2 separate regions of the Homo sapiens genome follow, and region 2 is reported to be linked to region 1. Evidence: microRNA targets listed by miRTarBase, many of them from high-throughput screens and not tested one by one. Region 1 holds a microRNA gene; the other region holds the end of a gene's coding sequence.
The links. The annotated mature microRNA hsa-miR-6807-5p reads GUGAGCCAGUGGAAUGGAGAGG and lies in region 1 at 2,159-2,180, shown strand. An mRNA with a match to its seed (bases 2 to 7 or 8) in the 3' UTR can be bound and repressed. Matches are read on the target gene's strand: a 7mer-m8 pairs with bases 2 to 8, a 7mer-A1 pairs with bases 2 to 7 and ends in A, and an 8mer does both.

Region 1 (4,000 bases):
TCTTGGGCTCTGGAGAGTGACAACAACACAGCCCTTTTGCTTTCTAAGAAGTTGGTGTGTACTGGTGGGCTCCTGGCTGGTGGGTTCCAGGCAGGTGGTTCCCAATACCTCAAATCCCTATTTGTTGTTGGTGTGCTCATTCTTTCCTCCCTTTCACTCCCAACCAGATCTACTTCCAGCTGCACCGGGCCCTCAAGATGATTGTGGATCCCGTGGAGCCACATGGCGAGATGAAGTTTCAGTGGGACCTCAATGCCTGGACCAAGAGTGCCGAGGCCTTTGGTGGGTCCCCAGCTTTACCTCACTCTGTTATTACCCCACGTGCTGCACCTACTTACGTTTCTCTCTTCTTTTTGCAGGCAAGATTGTGGCAGAGCGTCCTGGCACTAACTCAACAGGCCCTGCACCCATGGCCCCTCCAAGAGCCCCAGGGCCCCTGAGCAAGCAGGGCTCTGGCAGCAGCCAGGTGAGCAGGAGAGAGGACCCAGGAAGGGGTGGGCAGGGAATGGGGTCCAGTAGCAGGAGAGAGGACCCAGGCAGGGGGGGTGGGCAGGGAATGGGGTCCAGTAGGGTTCCTGTCCCACTGAGGCAGAGGGTTCTGCTTTGTTCACAGCCCATGGAGGTGCAGGAAGGCTATGGCTTTGGGTCAGGTGAGTGGGTCTGCCTAGTGGGTGGGGAAGGGCCCCAGTGCTGTTTCTACCCCAACCTGCCAGTCTTCTTTCTCCATTTTCTAAGGAGATGATCCCTACTCAAGTGCAGAGCCCCATGTGTCAGGTGTGAAACGGTAAGTATGGCACCTCCCCTGGGGGTGAGGTGGATGGAGGGTGGGGGTGTACTCATGCCAGGTTGCTGCATCTACAGGTCCCGCTCAGGTGAGGGCGAGGTGAGCGGCCTTATGCGCAAGGTGCCACGAGTGAGCCTTGAACGCCTGGACCTGGACCTCACAGCTGACAGCCAGCCACCCGTCTTCAAGGTCTTCCCAGGCAGTACCACTGAGGACTACAACCTTATTGTTATTGAACGTGGCGCTGCCGCTGCAGCTACCGGCCAGCCAGGGACTGCGCCTGCAGGAACCCCTGGTGCCCCACCCCTGGCTGGCATGGCCATTGTCAAGGTAAGCCTGTCCCAAGGAACTATAGCTGTAGGATGAAGCCTGTAGTCCAGGTCTGGACCCTGTTGAACACCCCTCATCACCACCTTGCAGGAGGAGGAGACGGAGGCTGCCATTGGAGCCCCTCCTACTGCCACTGAGGGCCCTGAGACCAAACCTGTGCTTATGGCTCTTGCGGAGGGTCCTGGTGCTGAGGGTCCCCGCCTGGCCTCACCTAGTGGCAGCACCAGCTCAGGGCTGGAGGTGGTGGCTCCTGAGGGTACCTCAGCCCCAGGTGGTGGCCCGGGAACCCTGGATGACAGTGCCACCATTTGCCGTGTCTGCCAGAAGCCAGGCGATCTGGTTATGTGCAACCAGTGTGAGTTTTGTTTCCACCTGGACTGTCACCTGCCGGCCCTGCAGGATGTACCAGGGTGAGTGTGAGGCTGGTGGGGGTCAAGTCTGGGTGTTGGGCTGTCTGGACAGGATCATGTGCAGACCCTTATTTTCTTCACCCTAGGGAGGAGTGGAGCTGCTCACTCTGCCATGTGCTCCCTGACCTGAAGGAGGAGGATGGCAGCCTCAGCCTGGATGGTGCAGACAGCACTGGCGTGGTGGCCAAGCTCTCACCAGCCAACCAGCGGGTGAGGGCTGGGGTTACTTAGGTGGGGTTGCCCAGAGAGGCTTTATAGGTGCTGCCCAGAGCTGTGACATCCCTTACAATGTTTGTAGAAATGTGAGCGTGTACTGCTGGCCCTATTCTGTCACGAACCCTGCCGCCCCCTGCATCAGCTGGCTACCGACTCCACCTTCTCCCTGGTGAGTCCTAGGATGGGAAAGGGGAAGGGGGTGGTGGCTGCTGGGTCTCGCCCTCAACCTGTGCATGTATATGTGTGTCTTTGTGTGTGTATGTGTGATCTCTGCCTGCAGGACCAGCCCGGTGGCACCCTGGATCTGACCCTGATCCGTGCCCGCCTCCAGGAGAAGTTGTCACCTCCCTACAGCTCCCCACAGGAGTTTGCCCAGGATGTGGGCCGCATGTTCAAGCAATTCAACAAGTTAACTGAGGTGAGCCAGTGGAATGGAGAGGCTGTGGGCAGGGGGAGATGTGAAGGAAAGAACTAGGACCCATTCATCCACTGCATTCCTGCTTGGCCCAGGACAAGGCAGACGTGCAGTCCATCATCGGCCTGCAGCGCTTCTTCGAGACGCGCATGAACGAGGCCTTCGGTGACACCAAGTTCTCTGCTGTGCTGGTGGAGCCCCCGCCGATGAGCCTGCCTGGTGCTGGCCTGAGTTCCCAGGAGCTGTCTGGTGGCCCTGGTGATGGCCCCTGAGGCTGGAGCCCCCATGGCCAGCCCAGCCTGGCTCTGTTCTCTGTCCTGTCACCCCATCCCCACTCCCCTGGTGGCCTGACTCCCACTCCCTGGTGGCCCCATCCCCCAGTTCCTCACGATATGGTTTTTACTTCTGTGGATTTAATAAAAACTTCACCAGTTCCTCAGGCGTTGGCTGGTTGGGGGACTGTGGTCCTGGGGCCTGGTTTATTGACTGTATCTACTAGTCAGCCTTATCAAGCACTGGTGGCACAAGGGAGGGGGGTCTTGTCCCCCACCTATCGAAGCCCATGTGTATGGATGCCTAGGGAGTGGGGAAGACTGCCTCCTTGCCCTTTCTGGGTATGGGGAGGGTCACCCAGGGCAAAGGATGTACACACTAGAGGCTTGTTGGGTACCCTGTGGGATACTGGGTAGGTGTGACCTACATCCCTGTGTAGGCAGGGTTAGCCCCAGGTGTAGCACAGCCACTCTACTGAATGCTTCCTAAATTTTGGTGCTGTAGCTGTTTCTCATCTTCAGAAGGTCCCACAGTGAACTGAGACCTTCCAGATGTGGTTTTTTTCCCTGTCTCCCTTTGCTGAGTCCACTTAACATTATCATTCATCTCTGTGTTATGATTTAGTTACTCTACAGTCGAGCCTGTGTGAATCCCAAGGCCACCCCCTTGCCTCTATTGGTTGGTCTGGACTGTCCTTGAGTGTTGTCATTAAACCATCACTGGACCAAACAGTGTTGGACACTACAGCCTGGCAGATGAGGCCTGGACTCTCAAGATCCTACCAGGGTGTTTGGGCAGTCCAGTATCTTGGGAGAGGTGATGGAGAAGGGCCCACAGCTCACCTGAAGCTCCCAGCTCCTGAAAATCCCAGGTGGACTTTGCTTGTTCACCCCTGCCCCAAACCCCCACCCTTAGCTTAGTACCAAGTGCCTCTTGCCTTAGTGATGCCCATCCTCCCAGGGACCCCAGTCTGGTCCCACATCAGGCCAAAAGTCACATGGGCCTGGAGACTAGTGTCAAATCTCTTTTATTACAGAGGGGTTGTGGTAAAAGATCCTGGGCATCCACTGGTTATCTCGGAGTGGCAGGGGCACTCAGTCCCTCCGCAGGTTCTTAAGCCGTTCCTCCAGGTCTGCATCAGCATCAGCTAGGGCTGAGGCTGCGGCCTCTGCTTTTTTCCCACCAGCAGCCACACTAAGCGAGCCCCCAGTTGAGGGGAGGTCTGCAGAGAAAGTGGGGGTTTGAGCAGGTGGGGTCAGGCAGCGGAGGGGAGTAATGCAGGGAAAGGGAGGGCTTGGAGCTGTGGCTGGGCCTTGGGTGGGAAATGGGGTCCAGGATTTGGAGCACTCACTCGACAGCTCATCTGTTAGGCTAAGTCCCAGCTCATCCAGAACCTGGGACACCACAGCATCACTAGGGAAGAGAGAGAACTCAGTGAGGGCTATGCACTCCGTGAGGGCCAGGCAAACATCTCCACCCTCCCATCCAGTTTCCCCATACCTCTCCTCTTCATCTTCCTCATCACCCATGGCATCATCAATGGCATCATTCATCATCTCCTCCTTCATATCC
Region 2 (4,267 bases), not on the chromosome of region 1:
ACAAACAAAAAACCTCAGCAGCAACAACAACAGATTTCCTTGTAGTTTACTTTGTTCATTTATAACTTATGCTGCCCCTATCATCCAAGGCTGTTATTAAAAAAGAGAAAGAGGGAGGTTTATCCATTTGTTTTCTGGTAATGGAAGTTAGAGCAGCTGTTGTGCACTAGTCTTTTTGTTTTTTCAGATGGGGTCTCGCCATGTCACCCAGGCTGGAGTGCAGTGCCACAATCTTGGTTCGCTGCAACCTCTGCCTCCCAGGTTCCAGCGATTCTCCTGTCTCAGCCTCCCGAGTAGCTGGGATTACACCCGTCTAATTTTTATATTTTTACCAGAGATGGGGTTTCGCCATGTTGGCCAGGCTGGTCTCGAACTCCTGACCTCAAATGATCCACCCACCTCAGCCTCCCAAAGTGCTGGGATTGCAGGCGTGAGCCACCACGCCCGGCCGTGCACTCCTTATTAATTGATCTTATTTTCATGATAGGGCTGTACTCCCTTTTCCAGTAATTCCTTTAGAAATCACAATGATGAGGATTTAGCATTTGATGAATCAATGACTAGTTATGCTCTGTAAAAGCTTTATCTTTAGAATTCTTATGTAAACAAAGATGACATAAAATAATGCTCCTCTTTCTTCTTTCTCCGAAGGGTCACATGGATGAAGATGTTCAGGAGGCTCTGCTCCAGATCATACAAATGCGGCAGGGGCTTGTGTGCTAGCCGTTAGCACTGACTGCCAGTATCTGTTTTATCTTGCTGGTGCTGAACATTCTTTGTGCAACTCCATGGTCTTTCTGGGCCTTACTGTGCTGGTATAATTAAAATAAAATATATTTTGTTCTATTGGTAGGTTTTTTTTTAAAATTAGATGAATATGTTAGTCTTTTTCAATATCAGTTTGAATCTTATTTTCTGTATGTGTTAATTTTACAAATAGGCAAACAACATAACTTTGCCCTGGATTGACTACATATTTTTAAACCTTCAAGTCCCTAATAAAACATGAGCCATCTGAGTGAGTCCATATGAAGCGAGGTTAGGCTGAAATAATTGCTTAAAGATGTCTTTCAGAGAAATTAATTTGGTTGGTGGCCACTTTTAGGTGGATCAAAAGACCTTTCAGATCCTCAGAACCTTGAGACATAATACAGTTGTGAGGAATGTGTTGTAACTTGGCTGGCCAAGTTACATGTTACAGTATCTTTACTGAGGTAACTTCATTAGTGTCTTTGGCCTTTTTTGTAGGTATAGATATTTTTTCTTTTTACACTAATAACTTTTATGCCTTTTAAAATAAATTTATTTTCATAAATGGTTTGCAGTGCTAAATTACATTTAGATTAAGAACAGGCAGGGGTGGAATATATCAGGAATTTATAATAAAATTGCCTTAATCTCTACAACAGTATCTTAATTTTTACTTGCGGTGACTATTCTTGCCACAATATTGGAGAATAATGATAGATGATATACTAGATTTTTCAAAGTGTGAAAACCTTTAGACTTTTTTTAGCAATTAGTTTGACATTCGCTACTATAGTAACCAAGCACTCATTATATATGCATCCTCCAAATGTTTCATGCTTATTTATAGGAAAGTTATATTAATGAGATTAATAATGTGAAATACAGTTTTCCTGCAAAATTAGCATTAGAGAATTGATTTTAGATAACAGATTTTTAAAGTTTTAGAGAAAAGTACAGTAATACAGTAAACTGAAAGAGTATATAGATAGCAATAAAATAACATAAGTGGACATGTTTATAGTAAATACTCTGAAGTAAACAACCGTTTTTATTAACTGCATCTCATTAGGGAAAGTTTATATGTCTTGTTATTTTTTATTAACATTTTATTTACCATTCAGAGTGAAAATTACTAATTTGAGTATTAACAAATAACTGAATAAATGGATCATTACAGTTAGGTTTTCTCAAATTGCAAAATTTGCCTTAGCAATTATCTTTGAACATCCCGAACCAGATTTTTAAATCCCATTTTTGTTTAATAGGGTAAAAATACCATCAAAATGACTTCTCATACCAAAGAATAAGCCATCATATTTTTTCGGTGTTGAAACAACATTGAAAGTCAGAATTGGATTTGTTTTTAATTCTTTATACGGTTTACATAAGCAATATCTGTCTCTTTAATTATTATGATTAATGTCGTCCTTCAGCATGAGTTCTGTTTCACAAGTTTTGGGCCACCTATTTCAATAAAAAATAAAATATAAATTAAAAAAGTTGCCGGGGGTGGTGGCTCATGCCTGTAATCCCAGCACTTTGGGAGGCTGAGGGAGGTAGATCACCTGAGGTCAGAAGTTCGAGACCAGCCTTACCAATATGGTGAAGCCCCATCTCTACTAAAAATACAAAAATTAGCCCTGCATGGTGGCAGGTGCCTGTAGTCCCAGGTACTCGGGAGGCTGAGACAGGAGAATCGCTTGAACCTGGGAGGCGGAGGTTGCAGTGAGCCAAGATCTCGCCACTGCACTCCAGCTTGGGCAATAGCAAGACTCCATCTCAAAATAAAATAAAATAAAACTTAGAGCAAAGTTTAAAACTGAGTATTCATATTAAGTGTTTTATTTTCCATATTAGAGATGGGAAGGGAACCTTATGTGTATTTTATTTTGTTTTCAACCATCAATAAAGTTTTCTCTAGAATATTGTTTTGAACATCCTTGTAAAAGATTTGCGAGTTAAACTATTTTATTTACTGTCTGTGAGAGCATTGGGAGTAGGAAACGATGGACTCCAAAGTACAAGGGAGAATACCCATTTTCATTCAGCTATCTGGAGTAAAATATCAAGTACTTCCTTCAACTAATCTTGTCTCATTCACTCACCTTTTGATATCGAAGGCAGAAATTGCGTTTACAACACTGAAGACCAAAGCTTTTTAATTAGTAAACAAGCGGAACATAGATAATGGACAATGCTGGCCACTGCCATTCTGTGTTCAGAAAGACTATGAGACCTGAACATATGGCCAAGAGGAAAGAAGAGTGACGTTGTCTAAGATGTAATGAGTGCTCTCTGAGAGAATCACTCAATTCCTATTGGAGTGCAATCCTTACTTGAGAACTTTATTACTCTTGTTCTGTGTAGTTTTTTTTTTTTGTCACTTCCCCATCAGAAAAGCATATTCTTTTTGATAGAGGGTCAGTGTTATAAATAATTGTCTTTTGAAATAAAATCAAATATTCATGCATTGAACATCTTAAATCTTTAATATTATGGTGACTATAATCACTTAACTGTATCAGCATTGTTCTAGAATTCCAGATGAATTTAGCTTTGTCTTTTTTATGGCTTTTTAGTTGAACCTTTTCTCTTGACCCTAACCAAATTTTATAGTTTACAATTTTCTACTCTTCTTATAAATGCATTGGCTCATTGCTGCTTTAAAAATCTTGTAGCTTTAGAACATGAGCATTTTTTTTCTCCAGTGTTATCAGCTTTCCTCTGACAAGGAAGGACCTAAAAACTATTCTCACACATGTGCTTGTTACCCTACCTGAATGTTCATGTCTTTGACCGACTCGTTTCAAAGTAAAAAAGGGAAGAGTTTCTAGTTAATTTTTGGTGTTCATGGTGACTAGATACATCAGTGCCTGCTTGCAGGAGTGCCAGACCCTAGCAGTGGTTACAAGCTTCTTTTGACATCTGCTTCACCATGGTAGAAGACAGTTACTTCTTATTGCCTCTGTTTTCATCACTGGATTCTGCAACCTTGCGATCTTTTTTCTTGTTGGTTCTGTGCACCAAAGTAATGGTAGCTCCTCTGGCACCAAAATACGGGTTGAAAGAGAATGCCTGTGATGAACATGAAAGATGTGGCTGACCTAGATCTTACCCTTGGCCCCTAAGTTTTATGAATAAGTTCAGAGGGAGGATAAAAAGCACTGGAGAAGTAAAGGCAGAATTTGCACCATAAAATAGATTGTGCACAAAATACGAAATGAAAATTAGTATAGACATTTCAACTGTCATTTCATTCAGTGTTGTTCCCCGCTAAACTGGAAACTGAACCTGAGACTGTTGCTGGAAATTCAGTTCTTTCCCGTGTTTTGATCTTAGCTATTTGAAACAGGACTCTTTAGACCAGCCTCTCCAGGTAAATATTAACCTGCTTCTTAGCATGGTTTCTGATTATTACTGAATATATTGACCTTTGGGCTCAAGTGAGTAATGAATGTACAGATTTTTTTTTTTTTTTTTTTTTTTTTAAAGATCAAGCTGTATCAGCGATGGCATT

Region 2: miRTarBase lists UACA as a target of hsa-miR-6807-5p. Seed matches in the 3' UTR shown: 7mer-m8 at 2,264-2,270.

The regions. Positions count from the first base shown.
Region 1 is chr19:58,548,127-58,552,126 of GRCh38, forward strand. MIR6807 (microRNA 6807) reads left to right here and starts at 2,159; the gene lies at 2,159-2,250. TRIM28 (tripartite motif containing 28) reads left to right here. Exons shown (of 17, transcript NM_005762.3): 7 at 1-54; 8 at 168-282; 9 at 360-466; 10 at 614-650; 11 at 736-784; 12 at 862-1,114; 13 at 1,205-1,524; 14 at 1,611-1,734; 15 at 1,823-1,909; 16 at 2,021-2,158; 17 at 2,251-2,589. The coding sequence ends at 2,427. CHMP2A (charged multivesicular body protein 2A) reads right to left here. Exons shown (of 6, transcript NM_014453.4): 4 at 3,929-4,000; 5 at 3,780-3,841; 6 at 3,440-3,650. The coding sequence ends at 3,523.
Region 2 is chr15:70,653,512-70,657,778 of GRCh38, reverse strand. It overlaps UACA (uveal autoantigen with coiled-coil domains and ankyrin repeats), which reads left to right. Exons shown (of 19, transcript NM_018003.4): 19 at 652-3,225. The coding sequence ends at 723. Among named protein-coding and RNA genes, the nearest start is that of SALRNA2, 20 kb to the right of the region's middle.